Regions from separate parts of the Homo sapiens genome. Here region 1 is linked to region 2. Evidence: fine-mapped expression QTL. A gene starts in region 2. The other region holds a variant in brackets. All regions are shown on one strand. Distances are from middle to middle. Region 1 overlaps MB21D2 (Mab-21 domain containing 2). Region 2 holds the start of ATP13A5-AS1 (ATP13A5 antisense RNA 1).

Region 1 (8,343 bases), 450 kb after region 2:
GGCCACTTTTTTGTTTGTTTGTTTTGTTTTGTTTTTTGAGACAGAGTTTTGCTCTTGTTGCCCAGGCTGGAGTGCAGTGGTGTGATCTTGGCTCACCGCAACCTCCATCTCCTGGGTTCAAGCGATTTTCCTGCCTCAGCCTCCCCGGTAGCTGGGATTACAGGCATGCACCACCATGCCCGGCTAATTTTTGTAATTTTAGTAGAGATAGGGTTTCTCCATGTTGGCCAGGCTGGTCTCGAACTCCCAACCTCAGGTGATTCACCCTCCTCAGCCTCTCAAAGTGCTGGGATTACAGGTGTGAGCCACTGCGCCCGACCTAAGGCCGCTTTTATCATATGTGATTTTGCCAGATCCATTGACTTATGAACTGAATTCCTCGTGCAGCATGTTTCCACCTTTGTCCCATGTCACAGATGAGATGGTCTCAGAAGGAGGAGTCTTCTTCCCTATCTGCATGGAAGGCAGAGTCAGGATTGATCATATGCCTTCCTAACCCACAACCAGGTTTTTTTTTTTCTCTTTAGCCTAATTTTTGTAATTCCACAGGGATTATGTACACGTGGAGTAGTCACGCTTATGGCAGGAACTGGGTCCAGAAGTTCGGCAAGATGCGCACGCTGAAAGGGATAGAAGAATGGTTTCTCTTTGAGTCTCCAGCAGCTCTAGGCTGTGCTCGGCTCCTTCTGGCCTGGGTTGGAGATGCCTGTTTAGAAATCTGTAGCTGTTTCTCCTCTGGCATCTAATGAATTCTGGCTGACTTTGAATGTTCCCTTGACACGACTGCAGTTCTTTAAAGCCCATCTTCCACATGGAATTGGCAGGTTCATTTAATTGTTTGGGAGCCAGATAAAAATGCTTTGTTCTTTGTTCTTACATTATGCCATTTCAGAATATCTCTTCTCCCACAAATTGCCGAGACTGTTCAATTTGAGCCTTCAATTGCTTCTCTCTGAGCAGATCTTTCAATTATTTTGCAGGGCCTGTTGTTTTTGATTAGGCAGTTAGAATATCAGCTGGGTTTCTTAATCTATTTATTCATATTTCTGCTTGCCTTTCTTTTTTCTACCTTTAAGTCTCTTTTATTGTGAAAAGCATGCAGTCATAGCAGCTGTAATGAAGTGCAAGTACTTTTTTCTTGTTTGCTGGCTGTAGTATGTGATCATTTTTTCCTTTGCTTATGTTTTAGGGTGATAATAATGTCCTCATCATTGTTATTATTTTTCTTTTTAAATCAGTTACTATGCTTAGATCTCAAACAGACAGAAGATAATTAGTAGATAAGAGAAAAACCAAAAATGCTGTGATTTGGCCAGGCACAGTGGCTCACACCTGTAATCCCAACACTTTCGGAGGCCCAAATGTGCAGATTGCTTGAGTCTACAAGTTCAAGAACAGCCTTGGCAACATGGTGAAACCCCACCTCTACAAAAAATAAAAAAATTAGCTGGGCTTGGTGGAGTGCACCTGTAGTCCAGCTACTTCGGAGGCTGAGGTAGGGGGATCGCTTGAGCCTGGGAGGCAGAGGTTGCAGTGAGCTGAGATTGCACCACTGCACTCCAGCCTGGGTGACAGAGCAAGACTGTCTTAAGAGAAAAAAAACAAAAAACAAAAACAAAACCCTGTGATTCAGATTTCAGAAAACACGCAAGGGCAATGCCAGGTGCTGAGGTAGAGCCATGAGAAAGATTAACTGGGTCTTTTCTTCCTGGTGCTTATTGCCTAATTTCCCGTTTCCTTATTTCTCCTTATAGCAATCAGGTAGGATAGGCATTGTGATTCTCATTTAACTCATGGGAAAACTGAGATTTAGAGTAGTGAAGTGATCTGCTCAAGGTTGCAAAGTTAAAAGAATTGCAGCTGGATTTTAAACCTAAGTGTGGAGTCTCCAGGTTTAGTGTTAGAGTCTGTGTGCAAGCGACTGTAAGTTACTGCCTCAAACCAGACCTCTAATAAGACCAGAGTGTCCCCTCTGAATGCAATCAGAGTCTCCTCCTGAGTGATTTTATTCTGAACATTGGAAACATGACAACATGTAGGTCTCTGATTCTGCCTTTGTCTTGCTTTATTATTATTATTTTCTTATTAAGTTTTTATTTACTTTTTGAGACAGAATCTTGCTTCGTTACCTAGGCTGGAGTGCAGTGGTACGATCTCGGCTCACTGCAACCTTTGCCTCATAGGTTCAAGTGATTCTCCTGCCTCAGCCCCCGAATAGCTGGAATTACCTCTCGGCTAATTTTTATATTTTTAATAGAGATGGGCTTTCGCCATGTTGGCCAGGCTGGTCTTGAACTCCTGACCTCAGGTGATCCTCCTGCCTTGGCCTCCCAAAGTGCTGGGATTACAGGCATGAGCCACCATGCCCAGACTGTCTTGCTTTATAACTTCTTTGAAGCTTCATTTTCTATCCTGTAAATGGAGGAGGTAGAAAAGGAGGAGAGAGAAAGTGGAGAGGAGGTTAGTCATCAAGAGAATGGGTTCTAGAGTATACAGACCTAGTACTGAATCCTGGCACTTCTGTGTTTTGACTCTGTGTTTTAGAAACTGGAACTTCAGTTTCCTTATTTGTAAAATGGAGATGATACTGCATAGAGGTATACCTCAAAGATATTGTGGGTTCAGTTCTACACCACCACTAGAAAGTGAATATTGCAATAAAGTGAATCGCACAAATTTTTTGTTTCCCATTACCCTATACTGTATTAAGTGTACAATAACATTTTGTCTAAAAATATACATATCTTAATTTAAAAATACCTTATTGGCTGGGCACAGTGGCTCACACCTGTAATCACAGCACTTTGGGAGCCCGAGGCAGGCAGATCACGAGGCCAGGAGTTAGAGACCAGCCTTGCCAACGTGGTGAAACCCCGTCTCTACTAAAAATACAAAAATTAGCCAGGCGCGGTGGTAGGTGCCTGTAATCCCAGCTGCTCGGGAGGCTGAGGCAGGAGAATTGCTTGAACCTGGGAGACAGAGCTTGCAGTGAGTCAAGACTGCACCATTGCACTCCAGCTCTGGGCAACAGAGCAAGACTCCATCTTGGAAAAAAAAAGAATTATTGCTAAAAAATGCTGATAATCATCTGAGCCTTCAATTTTACTTCACAATTACTCATTGGTACATGAGTTGCAGAATAGATATTGTATCAGCAGACTGAAAACAACATTAGTTTTATTGTACATCTCCATCAGAGTGCTTGAGTGACCAAGTGCATTGTCAGTGAGCAGAAATATTTTGAAAAGAATCTTTTTTTCTGAGCAGTGGGTCTCAACTGTGGGCTTAAAATATTCAGTAATTCACCACGCTGTAAACAGATGTGTTGTTATCTAGCCTTTGCTATTCCATTTATAGAGCACAGGCAGAGTAGATTTAGTGTAATTCTTAAAGACCTTAGGATTTTCGGAATGGTAGATGGACATTGGCTTCCATTTAAAGTCACCAGCTGCATTAGCTTCTAACAAGAGAGTCAGCCTGCCCTTTAAAGTTTTGAAGCCAGGCATTAATTTCTCTCAAACTATGGAAGTTGCATTGACATCTTCTCTGAATGCAAGACTGTTTCATCTCCATTGAAACGCTGTTTACTGTAGCTACCTTCATCGGTTATTTTAGCTGGAGCCTCTGGATAACTTGCTGCAGCTTCCACGGCAGCACTGGTGACTTCACTTTGCACTTCTATGTTATAGAGATGACTTATTTCCTTAAATCTCATGAGCCAGTTTCTGCTAGCTTCAAACTTTTCTTCTGCAGCTTCATCACCTCTCTCAGCTCTCAGAGAATTGAAGAGAGTTAGGGCCATGCTCTGGATTGGACATTGGCTTTTGGTATTCTATCTAGACCACCAAATCTTTCCCCATATTAACAACAATGCTGTTTAACTTTCCTATCATTCATGTGTTCACTGGGGTAGCACTTTTAATTTCCTTCAAGAACTTTTCCTTTGCATCCACAGCTAGGCGAACTGTTAGGCACAAGGGGCCTGCCTTTCAGCCCATCTCAGCTTTTGACATGCTCTCCTCACTAAGCTTAAC[C/A]ATTTCTGTCTTTCGACTTAGGGTGAAGGACATGTGTCTCTTCCATTCACTTGAACACTTAGAGGCCACTGTAGGATTATGCACTGGCCTAACTTCAAAGTTGTTATGTCCCAAGGAATAGGGAAGCCCATGGGGAGGGAGAGAGCTGGGGTAACAGCTGGTTGTGGAGCAGTCAGAACACACTATGAGTGTGATTCATGGTGCCCCAAGACAATTACAATAGTAACATCAAAGATCACAGATCACCATAACATATAATAACAATGAAAACGTTTGAAAGATTAAGAGAATTACCATAATGTGACACAGAGACGCATGTGAACCCTGCAGTTGGAAAAGTGGTGCTCACTTGCTCGATGCAGGATTGCCACAGACCTTCAATTTGTAAAAAACACAACTATCTGAGAAGCACAGTAAAGCAATGCACCATCAAACAAGGTGCGCCTGTACTTGTAAGTCTTTTGAGAATAAAAAAAAAAACAAAACACCAAAAACACCAGAAATGTATGTGGAACATTTAGCGTAGTGCAAAATAAATATTTTCAGCTATTTTTCTGTTTGGGTCATTGATTCATTTGCATATTCAGCGTGCATGCATTGAGTGACACTCAGGTGGGAACACCACTGCTGCTGTTGCAACCCCTATTTTGTTACTTAGGTACTTAGGGGCACAGTAAGGCATTATAGATAAGACATGGTTAAATCTGTGGTGAGCTGAAACTGCATAGGTGTCCAGTGATAAAAGTTACCTTCTATTAAATGCTACCTTAGTGTGAAAAACCATTTGTCACGGAAGTGCCTCCTAAAGAAAGGAGTGTTAAATTCTGACAGGGTCAACACGGGATGGAATGGCGGTTGGTTGGTGTGGAGATGTGGAGTGAGTGTCCAGAAGTGGGAGAAGACCTTCGAGGGGTGATGTGGTTGGTGGGTGTGGTTGGTCTCAAAGACCAGGTTAAGGAGTCTAGGCCTCATTCATTCATTTGTCCATTTATAATGCTGGGACTATATGGAAGATGGATCAGAAAGTCAATATACTGAATATAAACCAGGTAAAAAGCAATGAAAATGGTCTCAGAGAGAGAGAGAGAGAGAGAGAGAGACAGAGAGAGATAACTGAAAACTGGATTTAGGGCAGTGATAAGGAGAAAGAAAAGTAGCTAACAGAAATGAAAGATGATGGGATATTTTAAAAAGCACTTTTAAGAATCTGGATTTCAGATGGTCATAAAAGTAGGAACAGGAAAACCTGGAGTAATTTGGAAATGCAGTGAGAATGCTACAGACAGAGGATGATGGGCATCTTGGTTAAAGTGACTGGAAGTGGGGGTCAGTGGTGGGGAGCTCATTCTGAAAGTTCTAGGGCAAAATTGGAGGATTTGCCAGTCAACTGACCTTCACCTGCTTCTGGCAGTCATCCACCTCTCAATTATGTTAGCCATACTAACAAATGGACATTGGTTTTTATTTTGCTCTCATTATTTAACATTTCCTGTATTTATTGCTTTTGGATTCAAAAGGATGCAAGAAACTTAGTCTGTTTTTTCTTTTCACTATGAAGTAAAGAGACTGTTTTCCTTGTTTGAGGCAATTGCTTATTTCTCCTTCTGTTTTTCCCCCGTTTAAAATGTCCTGCTACAAAATGACCTCTAGAACCTGTATATGAAGCAGGTTGCAAGGTGGTTCAGCTGAGTGCTAGAATATATTTAAGAATACTTTACTGACTGTCAGTTCAAGCAAAAAACAAAGCAAACAAAAACCTGCTGCTTTGAAATAAGGGCTATTTGCTTCCTATGGCTTTCTTTCGCCTCACAACCTGTCTTTCCAGTTTATTAGCTTTTGTAGCAATTACATCGATTGAAGAGTGACCATACAAATAGGTCTGCATTTTGGAAATGGGTGCTGTGCATGCTGAGTGGTGTCTCTGAGTGTGAATCCTGGTGAAAGGATGAAGGAGGCATCTCGCCCCATATTTTCTCTCCCTGAACTGGTCTGTCTCAGTTCTGCTTTCTGATCATTTCCCCTGTTGGCAGAACCTGCCCTTGACCCTCAGCCACAGTGAGTCAGTGTACACTGGCACGACTCCAGATGCCTGGGGGATAAAACTTTGCCCAAGTTTGCCAATCATTCCTCGAAGCTGCCCAGTTGTTCTAGTCTTTGTTGATGTTTCCTAGAAAATTTTGGCTCCACATTTGTCATGGTTACTTAGTTTATTTGACAGCATGTCTTGCTTTGTGTTGGATACTTTAGAGGATACAGCAGTAAGACTTGGGCACTGTCTTGGAGTAGCTCAAAGAAGAGGAAGATAAATAATAATAACCTTTTAAAAATCGGCCAGGCATGCTGGCTTACGCCTGTGATCCCAGCACTTTGGGAGGCCGAGTCAGGGGGATCACTTGAGGTCAGGAGTTCAAGACCAGCCTGGCAAACATGGCAAAACCCTGTCTTTACTAAAAAAAAAATACAAAAATTAGCGGGATATGGCGGTGCATGCCCTTAATCCCATCTACTCTGGAGGCTGAGGCAGGAGAATCGCTTGAATCCGGGAGACGGAGGTTTCAGTGAGCCAAGATCGTGGCACTGCACTCCAGCCTGGGCAACAGAGTGAGACTCCATCTCCAAAAAAAAAAAAAAAAAAAACAGACAAAAAAAAAGTGTACAATTTAGTGGTTTTACTATATGTACAAAATTCACATTGATCACTCTCTAATTTTGGAATATTTTTATTGCCCCCAGAAGAAACCCCATACTCATTAGCAGTCACCTTCTACTCCCCACTCCCCAACAGCCCTTGGCAGACACAAATCTCCTTTCTGAATCTATGGATTTGCCTATTCTGGACATTTCATATAAATGGAATTGCATAATAGGTGGCCTTTTGTGTCTGGCTTTTTTGACTTAGCATAATGTTTTTAAGGTTATCCGTGTAACAATACTTCATTTCTTTTTATAGCTTAATTCTATTCTATGGTGTGGCTATACCTCATTTTGTTTATAGGAGCCATATCTTGAGTGTGTTCTATGTTCATTGTTCCATGAGCTTTACCTTTTAAATTCATTCGTCTTCATAATTACTTCATAGGTGCAATTACTATTGCCATATTGCCAGTAAAGAAGAAGGCATAGATAGGTAACACAGCTAACAATAAGTAGCAGAGCAAGCTTGGTTTAACTGCAGAGTCTGTGCTCTTAACCTTACTCTTCCCGCCACACACTGTGAGTCACAGGATAGAAGACATATTTAAAAATGAGTGTAAACGTGGGAGGAAGTTACAAAGGTCTTAAATGACTGTGGAGTTCAGTAGCTCAGAGTTGGGGGTGGCCTGTGGCGTGGGTGTCTGTTACAGTGTGCTGTACTTTGTCATTTGTACTGCCCTTCGGATTATGGTGCGCAGTGGATTTGAGGCATCACAGGGGATCTAGGCCGCAGGGAGACGGGACGGGGCTCCCAGTCCACTGACAGGTTTGCTCAGGGCTGATTCGGCAGCGTGCAGGGCTGAGCCTGAGGCCAAAGGTTTTCAGACGTGTATGTGTATCTGGGTGGGGCCTGGCCTGTGCAGGCAGGGACTTGATAGCAGGCACCTCTTTTCTGTGGAATGTGGAGAAGTACAAGCAAGTCTAACCATGCTGCCCGGCTCACCACACATGCGATGAATGACGGAATGAAGGAGAGATATGGTGGGTGGGTACTAGAGTTGAGAGCCTCGAACCTCAAGTTGCAGAGACCGTGCAGTGGCCTGCCTTGAGAGGTATACAGTCTGTCCACATCTCTGTTACTCTGCTGGAGCTTGCTGTCTAGATTCTACTAGGAGCTATCACCCAGGTTCTTTCCTTCAGTGTAGAGTCTGTCTCCTGGGAGATCAGAAGTCCCAGCTTAGTCTTTTCTTAGTGGAACCCCAGAAAATTGTTCTATGGGCCGGGCGCGGTGGCTCATGCCTGTAATCCTGGCACTTTGGGAGGCCGAGGCGGGTGGATCATAAGGTCAGGAGTTCAAGACCAGCCTGGCCAACATGGTGAAACCCCCTCTCTACTGAAAATGCAAAAAATTAGCCTGGTGTGGTGGCACGCGCCAGTAGTCCCAGCTACTCAGGAAGCTGAGGCAGGAGAATTGCTTGAATCCAGCAGGCAAAGGTTGCCGTGAGCCAAGATCGCACCACTGCACTCCGGCCTGGGTGACAGAGTGAGACTGTCTCGAAAAAAAAAAAAAAAGAAAATTTTTATATGACATGTTTCTGTCTCTGACAGTTTATTCACTCAGCAAACATTTATGAGGCTCTTCTGTGCCAGGAGTTGTTCTAGGTCCTTGGGACAT
Region 2 (8,343 bases):
GGGCTGTTCTTTTATTTTTAAAAGTTTTCTTCTTCCCAATCATATTGCAATGGTTGTTTTTTCTTTTTAGATTCTGGTGAATGGAACAGTTTTTGCAAGAATGTCTCCTGGGCAGAAATCAAGCCTTATTGAAGAATTTCAGAAATTAAAGTAGGTGTCATGGCATGAAAGAAGAGTGTGCTCATTAACTCTTGCTACCTATGGGTCAATAATTCAGGTGTGAGTCAGAATGGCTATTATTAAAAAGTCAAAAATAACAAATGTTGGCAAGATTGCAGAGAAAAGGGAACACTTATACACTATTGGTGGGAGTGTAAATTAGTTCAGCCATTGTAGAAAGCAGTATGACAATTCCTCAAAGAGCTAAAACAGAACTACCATTTGAACCAGCAACCCCAATGCTGGCTATATACCTAGAGGAATATAAATCATTCTACCATAAAGACACATGCATGTGACTGTTCACTGCAGCACTATTCACAATAGCAAAGACATAGAATCAACCTAAATGCCCAGCAATGACAGATTGGACAAAGAAAATGTGGTACGTACACACCATGGAATACAGTGCAGTCATAAAAAAGAATGAGATTATGACTTCTGCAGGAACACAGATGGAAATGGAGGCTATTATCCTTAGCAAACTAATGCAGGAACAGAAAATCAAATACTGTGTTCTCACTTACAAGTGGAAGCTAAATGATGAGAACACATGGACACAAAGAAGAAAAACACAGATATTGGGGTCTACTTGAGAGCAGAGGGTGGGAGGAGGAAGAGGAGCAGAAAAAATAACTACTGGGTACTGGGCTTAATTCCTGGGTGATGAAATAATCTGTAAAACAAACCTCCGTGACATGAGTTCCCTCGTATAACAAATCTGCACATGTTCTCCAAACCTAAAATAAAAGTTTAAAAAAGGGGATTAAAAAAAAATTCAAGCACTGGCTTGAGTGGGGAAAAAAATCTCTCACCAGCCTCATTCACATGTTGAATGCTCAGTGCCTCATGAGCGGTTGGACTGAACCTCAGTTTTTCACTGGCTAGCGGACAGAAGCCAACCTCAGTTCCTTGTGACAGGGGCCATTGCATAAGGAAGCTCACAGTGCAACAGTTGACTTCTAAAAGAGCAAGCAAGCAAGAAGAACCAGAGACAGAGCACACAAGACGGATGTTGCTGTTTTTTATATGCCAGTCTCATCACCCTTGCCGTATTCCCTTCCTTAGGAGTAAGCCACTAGATCCAGCCCACGTCCAGGGGAGTGGATTACACAGGGCGTGGATGCCAGGAGCTGGGGATCGCTGAGGGCCATTTAGAAGTTACCTATTCCAGAGAGCATTTGTTCTGTGGGCCATAAGGCATATATCTTAGAGAACCCTCCCATGCTTGGATGTAGCAGAAATAGTGGGGCAGGTTGTATAGCTTAGAATCAGAAAAATGGGGAAGTAGGTGCGTTATACCCTGGAATTATTTTAGGTTGGTCCATTAGAAGATATGTGAATAATTTCTGGTCTTCTTAGCAAGAGGTGAAATAGCATTTTGCCTTTATCTGGCCCCAGCAGGGAAAGTCAAGAGAAAGTCCTTTATTACCCCCTTCAAAAATAAAGATGACCAAGTTACCTTATAGTGAAATGGTACTTCTTGAGACCAGATCTACCTACTGGTTTCTGGGAATGTAACAGTTTGGGGCTGCAGAGTCTAGGAAGTGAAAAGGAACATAGGGTAGTGAATCTTTAGATGATGGCTGGTGAGTTGTTGGTGAAATCAGGAGACACCCTTTTATTGTTAGATTTTGTTACCCAAGCATTCATAGGGAAGTCTTACAAACTGCCTATTAACTTCCAGAATGCCTGAGGCTGGGTAAGTAACCAGTGACTAAATGACTATTTCATTCACATGATCATTACATGATATTGCTGAAGAAAGTAATTTTACCTTTTTCAAATGCCTGAGAAATTTTGCCAACTAAAATGCCTAACTTTGAAAAGCCATATTCCCCTTAAAAAATGAATTCAGGAAGACACACACTGCCTCAGAATGAGCTGTCTTCTCAACATCCCAATCTTCCTCCTCATGCCTTTGTCATTGGCAATGTGCATAAGGCTGTCTGCATTCTCTTTCTGAATTCAGGGAATACTAGAAGATGATAAGATTCTTGATGTGATATAGAGACTAAATATGTGCTTTAAGCCTGAAAGAAGGAGCCATTTTTCAACAATTGTGGGTAGTCATGACATGAACATATATAGCATGATTATTTTCATCTACACAGCCCAGTATCGGATTGAACCATAGGGGTGTGCCTACATTTGACTTTTTTTTGTTTTTGAGACAGAGTCTCGCTTTGTTGCCCAGGCTGGAGTGCAGCGGTGCAATATCGGCTCACCGCAGCCTCCGCTTCCAAGGTTCAAGCAATCCCCCTGCCTCAGCCTCCCAAGTAGCTGAGATTACAGGAGCACACCACCATGCCCAGCTGATTTTTTCTATCTTTAGTAGAGATGGGGTTTCACTGTGTTGGCTAGGCTGGTCTCGAACTCCTGACCTCAAGATCCGCCTGCCTCAGCCTCCCAAAATGCTGGGATTACAGGTGTGAGCCACCGTGCCTGGCCACATTTAATTAACTGTTTTTGACCTATAAAAGTGGTTGTTTCTTATGCATTAACTAATAATAACGAAACGCTAACAAAACTTTATTTTTTCTCCTTATTGATTTCATAACTCTGTTTTTAGAAAAATGCAGCTAAGTCTTTAAGAATATTGTCATTTATCAATACTTATAATGTATAACTTATAATAGAAGGCAGGCAGTGTCTTACATCTGAAACTCCTTTTCTTTGGCAGCCGTATTAATTTTTACTCTTCTATTTGTATTGTGCTTGCACACCAAACTGATATAGATGGAAAACATATCTTATTTTCACCCTGACATGCATCAAAAATATGAATATATGTCTCTAGTTATATCTGTTAAACTGTTTTTGAAATTTCTCATCCTGGTATTTGAGCTGTAAATGCTCAGCAACAGTCAGTGACTAAAATGCAGCTGGATTGGGTTATGATCTCTGCATTAGGTTGTGTGGGAAGTGCTCTGCTCATGACTGCATACTCTTAAGCTTGGCCTTGGTGCGTATCATCAAGCAGGACTTCTTTTAAAGTGTGCAATCACTGTTTTGCCGATGTCCTTGGTTATATCACTACCATTTCAATGTGATTGATTGAAACAACTTAAATAACGCAACTGCCTTTTCCCTCTGGGAATATGTCTCTCCAAACCATTTTTCTTCAGCCTGATTCCAGGTGTGTTCAGGGGACACACACATACACACAAATCACATGTGACTTAGTTATGATGGAAAATATTCAAGTGAGCTGTTCATTTTTCTTACCTATTAATCCTTCTTCTCCTGTCTCCCGCAGTTATTATGTGGGCATGTGTGGAGATGGAGCTAACGACTGTGGGGTGAGTAGAAATGGCTTTTGCTCAGACAAGCCACTCACTAATATCCCTCTGGAGGACCTCAGGCTCTCCTGGGGTTTGTCTCTTCATCCTTCCACCAGCAACCATTTGATTATTTTGCTGTTTATATCCACCTCTACCTGAGTGTGGGTTGGAAGCGGAGGGGAGTAAAGGGAGATGAGACACTTCCGATGCTTTCTGGAAACTCCTAGAATAATAAACACAAAGGAAGGCTACTTAGACTCCCATATTTCAGGTTCCAAAGATGGAACTTTACAAGTCTATCTGCTTTAAATCTTTCCTGTTATCAGTAATGAAATGATTTCTCAAGGAGGTGATTTCTTCCCCCCTCCCAAGGTCACACAACTGATAAAGACTCAATGAAACGAAGTTTGAAACTGATGATTAAAGTTTTGAATTATATGTAAATTATATTTATTCCTGCCAAACTTTCATTCTCTGGTTAGTTTTTAAGTTTGCTTCACCCAGAACTCTTTCACTCAGTAAAATCCTAGACCAAACTATTTAGTTATTTTATGCTATAGAAAAAGCTAAATAAAATGATTATCAGCAAATTATTTTTCATATGCAGTAGAAGGGCAGTGAATGTTTTATATTCTGAGTTTTAAAGACATGAAGGAAACAAATAGTCTACCTTCAAGATTATGTACTTAAGGAAATATTTCAGTAGCTGATTTATGGGACAAGAAGTGAGGAAGATTTCTTTGTATTTCCAAAGCTTATTAGAGATTTAAGATCTTGGTATTTGTTTTATTTCTCTCTTAAATATTATTTCCAAATTTCTGTGAAAACTGTGTTTATAGCTAGAAATTTTTATAGCTAGAGATGTTTTTTGCTTTATGTTTCATGAGAAAAAGCTAATTTTTAGTCTGTTCTTTCAAATCTAGAATACGTATCCTCTCACATTAATTATGTGGCGTTTAGAATAAAACAAAAAAATCAAATGCAAAAAGGGACATAGTCTCTGCCTCCTAAAGAGTTCATTGTCTGATGAAGAAAGAATCATGAATAAAACTAACCCTAACATAAAGTAGATGGTCCTAAAGTACATAATAGAGATACGAACTAGAGATCAAAGAGGAAGAAGAAAATGTCCTATTATTTATTAAACCTGAATCTAGTATGTACTCATGGCGCCAGGTACTCTGTAGTTCTGTGGAACTACAGATATATAAAAGTTCATTTTATGCCCACACAATTCTTATAGGATCGGCCTAGGAATTCTTTCACCTTTGTTCATGAAGATTCCCACCAGGTACAAGAACTGAAACGGTGAAGGTCCCCAACCAACGTCCATCCAAATTCTGTCATCTTTTTAATTGAGTTTTTGAATGAGGGCTTCCATCTCCTTTTCACATCTATAATCCCCACAGGCAGGGCCCTTGTATGCACATGCCCACATGCACACACGCATGCATGTACACACACCACTTTTCTACCTCTGGGTCATTGTTTAGTTAGTGACTTTGTGGATCAGGGGAGAGAGGGCACTCCAGGTGGAGGGACAGCATTAAACAGAGACCCAAAGATGAAACAGTACAGTGTTATACCTTTATGATGTGAAGAACAGCCTCTTGGTGTTTTAAGAGGTAAAGCCTAACCTGAAAAGTCATGGGTGAGACATGGGCTTATCATTCCAGGCTTTGAAAGCGGCTCATGCAGGCATTTCATTATCAGAGCAGGAAGCATCTGTGGCATCCCCTTTTACCTCTAAAACAACCAACATCCAGTGTGTGCCTCATCTCATCAGGTAAGTCATTTTTTCCTCTTCCAGCCCTACAATCAATGGGCCCATTGTCTGGCTCTGCAGACAGAATTCAACTACAAGCTAAAGTGATAAATGCTGCAACAGAGGAATGGGTGAAGTGCTATTGGAGAACCAATGAAGGGGGCCATTAGTGTTACTCAAGAGTGCTGGTAAAAGCCACAGAAAAGTGACTTTTGCTGAGCCTTAAAGGATAGGTGGGTATCATGTAAACAGTTGAAAGCTTGACTTGATGTTTTAAAACTAATTGTATTTCTTACTTTTTCTCTCCTCTATTTGGTATGTTGGATGCTTCCTGTAACATTTCTCTCAGGAATTTTGGATGGATGAGGAAGCAGAAAGGAAATACTTCATTAGATAGCTTCCCTAAATACTATTACATGTCTCCAAAATGCAAATTAGTAAATATCCAATATCTTTTACATAAAAAGTTGATTGACAGTGTCAGGGAAGGGGAAGTGATATGGTTTGGCTTTGTGTTCCCACCCAAATCTCATCTGGAGTTGTGGTTCCCAGCCTGTTGACTGGATCATGGGGGCAGTTTCCCCGATGCTGTTCTCATGATAGTGAGGGAGTTCTCATGAGATGTGATGAATTTTAAAGTGGCAGTTTCCCCTGCGTGCTTCCTCTCTCTTGTCTTGTGAAGAAGGTGCCCACTTCTCCTTCACCTTCGCCATCTTTGTAAGTTTCCTGAGGCTTCCCCAGCCATGTGGAATTGTAAGTCAATTAAACCTCTTTTGTTTACAAATTACCCTGTCTCAGGTAGTAATCTTTATGGCAGTGTGAAAATGGACTAATACAGGAAGCCATTAACAGACGTTTATTTTCACAGCATGCTTCCCTCCCCTCCACTCCACTCTGATTTCTGATCTCATGTCTACTTATATTTTAAATGTAGTTAAGAACAAAACACCCAGTTTTATGTTTTATTCATAAATCTGATTTATCTATTGTTTCCTATAGCACTTATGGATAATTTCTGGGCATTTTCATGGGCAGTGATCTGAAAACCATCACCAGATTTTGAGATTCATACAAAAAAGACAGCCATGAAGTTCCCCAGCATGTCCTTTGGTGCATCAGAATAAACAGGTCACTGGCAGGAATCACTGACCTAAAGGTAGCAGGTCTAAAATTCCACACCCCTGGTTGGCTGCATATCAGCAAGACAGCTTTACACAACACCCTGAACACTGGGTGTCTGCACGTGTGTCCTTTCACACCCTCAAACACGATCACTTCCCCTGCCTCCAAAGCAGCTCCTCTTCCCAACTCCCACTTTCCTTGCTTCTAAGAACAGTCTACTCCTTGGAGTCTGCCATTGAGGTTCAGACCCTTAGAGTGCGTGTAACTCCTTCCTCTTCTTCACCCATAACCAAACAAGCATTATGTTTTACTGATTTATTTTGCAGAGTATCTCTAAGCCCTTTGGTTACTATCTCTAGTGTCTTAACCTTGGTTTGTGTCATGGTGACTACATGATGATAGTACTCAGAACCCTCGCCTTATTTTATGCTTTCCATTGTCAATACAACTCATGGAGCTCTTTACAAGTGTGCTTGGAAATGTAAAGAATGAGAGAGTCTTGCCCCCGGAGAATTTACATTCCAGCAAAAATTATGTGTGTGTGTGTGTGTGTGTGTATGTGTATGTATATGTGTAACATGTTACATATATTTACATAAATACATATATACATATATATGAATGTATATATAAATATGTGTGTGTGTGTATATATATTTATATACACACACACATACAAATGAAGTGGATGTGGGTCACTTCCCATGTGGATTGCTTCTGCCCTGACCAGAGGAGGCTGAAGGAGAGCTGGTTTGCTGAGGTCCCACTCTCGCATCACGTGCTGCTACCTCACGTCTTCTTTTAACCTGTCATAATCCACCATTCAGAAAACCTGTTACCGCATTAACAGCTAAGACTGAATTTTTTTAAAGGAGAAATATCTCCTTTACATATATACATATATACATACATTAACATATATACACACACATACACACAAATATATACATTATTTATTGAGTGTCTCTCATGCATCAGGCATGTTTTATACACACACATACACACACAAAATTATATATATACAATGTCTGATACATGGGACGTGCTCAATAAATTTGCTTGAAATAAATTAATGTCCAAACAAGACAGCAAATGTTCTGGCAGTTGAGTGTGAGAACTCAAGCCAGGAGGGAAGCTTTCAGTAGGGGAGTTGCAACTTGAAAAATGGGTGAGACTTATGTAAACAGAAAGGAGGTGAGAAGGAATTCCAGGTGGGGAAAATGCGGCAGCCATGTTTAGACACAGTGTTGTAACTGGAGAATGCAGGGGCCAGTTGGTGCAACTGGGCTAGAAGACTTCTCAGATGAGAATTGTGGTGGTTAAGCTAGACAACCAGATGTGGAGACCTTGCAGGGAGTTTGAGCTCCTGGATAACAGTGCAAAGTGCCTACTTGATCCATTCAACATGCAGTGGCATTCGAACTTCAGATGCTCCTCCTCATGCATGTGGCCCAGTGCATTTATGAGTGCAGTGTACTGTTACGGAATACAAGTCATGATGTAAAATTTCTCCAGTGGCAGATGGCTCAGTAAGACGCTAGGGTAGAAACTCCTTGCTTTTATATTTCATAGACTCATAAAAATTAGATATGGTTCAGCTCTGTTAGGCTCATTTTACTTTTTCTATCCTTGATGCATACTTATTCCTGAGAAAGCACTCCAGAGAGGCAATGAGATACAGTTTTAGATGCATAGGATCAAATCCACGGATTTTCATCTTTGTCTTTTGAAACATGATTTACTTGTTGCTATAGTTCAAGTCCTTTAGGGCAGAGACTGTGTCTTAGTGATTTTTGTATCAAGCATTATGCCTAGCACTATGCTGGGTATATCAGAGCATTCAGTGAACGTTTGTAGAATGCGTAGATAAATGCATGAGCTACTTAAAATTCACAATCATTAGGAATAGCAGTAATTTTGGAGGCCCATTTATCCTTTACTTAGAATAGTTTCTTGTACTTTCCTTTGAATCTGGGTGTCTTAATTTTCCTGGAACTATGCACGATTGCAGAA

The links. PIP is the estimated chance that this variant, and not a neighbour inherited with it, causes the effect.
Region 1: its variant is fine-mapped to the expression of ATP13A5-AS1 in whole blood (TOPMed, PIP 0.96).

What each region holds. Positions count from the first base shown.
Region 1 is chr3:192,849,820-192,858,162 of GRCh38, reverse strand. The region is part of intron 1 of MB21D2 (Mab-21 domain containing 2); the gene reads left to right. Among named protein-coding and RNA genes, the nearest start is that of MB21D2, 64 kb to the left of the region's middle. RefSeq lists enhancers at 7,001-7,050, 7,081-7,130. The variant C/A (reference allele first, on the strand shown) is at 4,035.
Region 2 is chr3:193,302,445-193,310,787 of GRCh38, reverse strand. ATP13A5-AS1 (ATP13A5 antisense RNA 1) reads right to left here and starts at 3,544. Exons shown (of 2, transcript NR_046758.1): 1 at 3,388-3,544. ATP13A5 (ATPase 13A5) reads left to right here. Exons shown (of 30, transcript NM_198505.4): 21 at 71-150; 22 at 3,419-3,461; 23 at 5,120-5,229.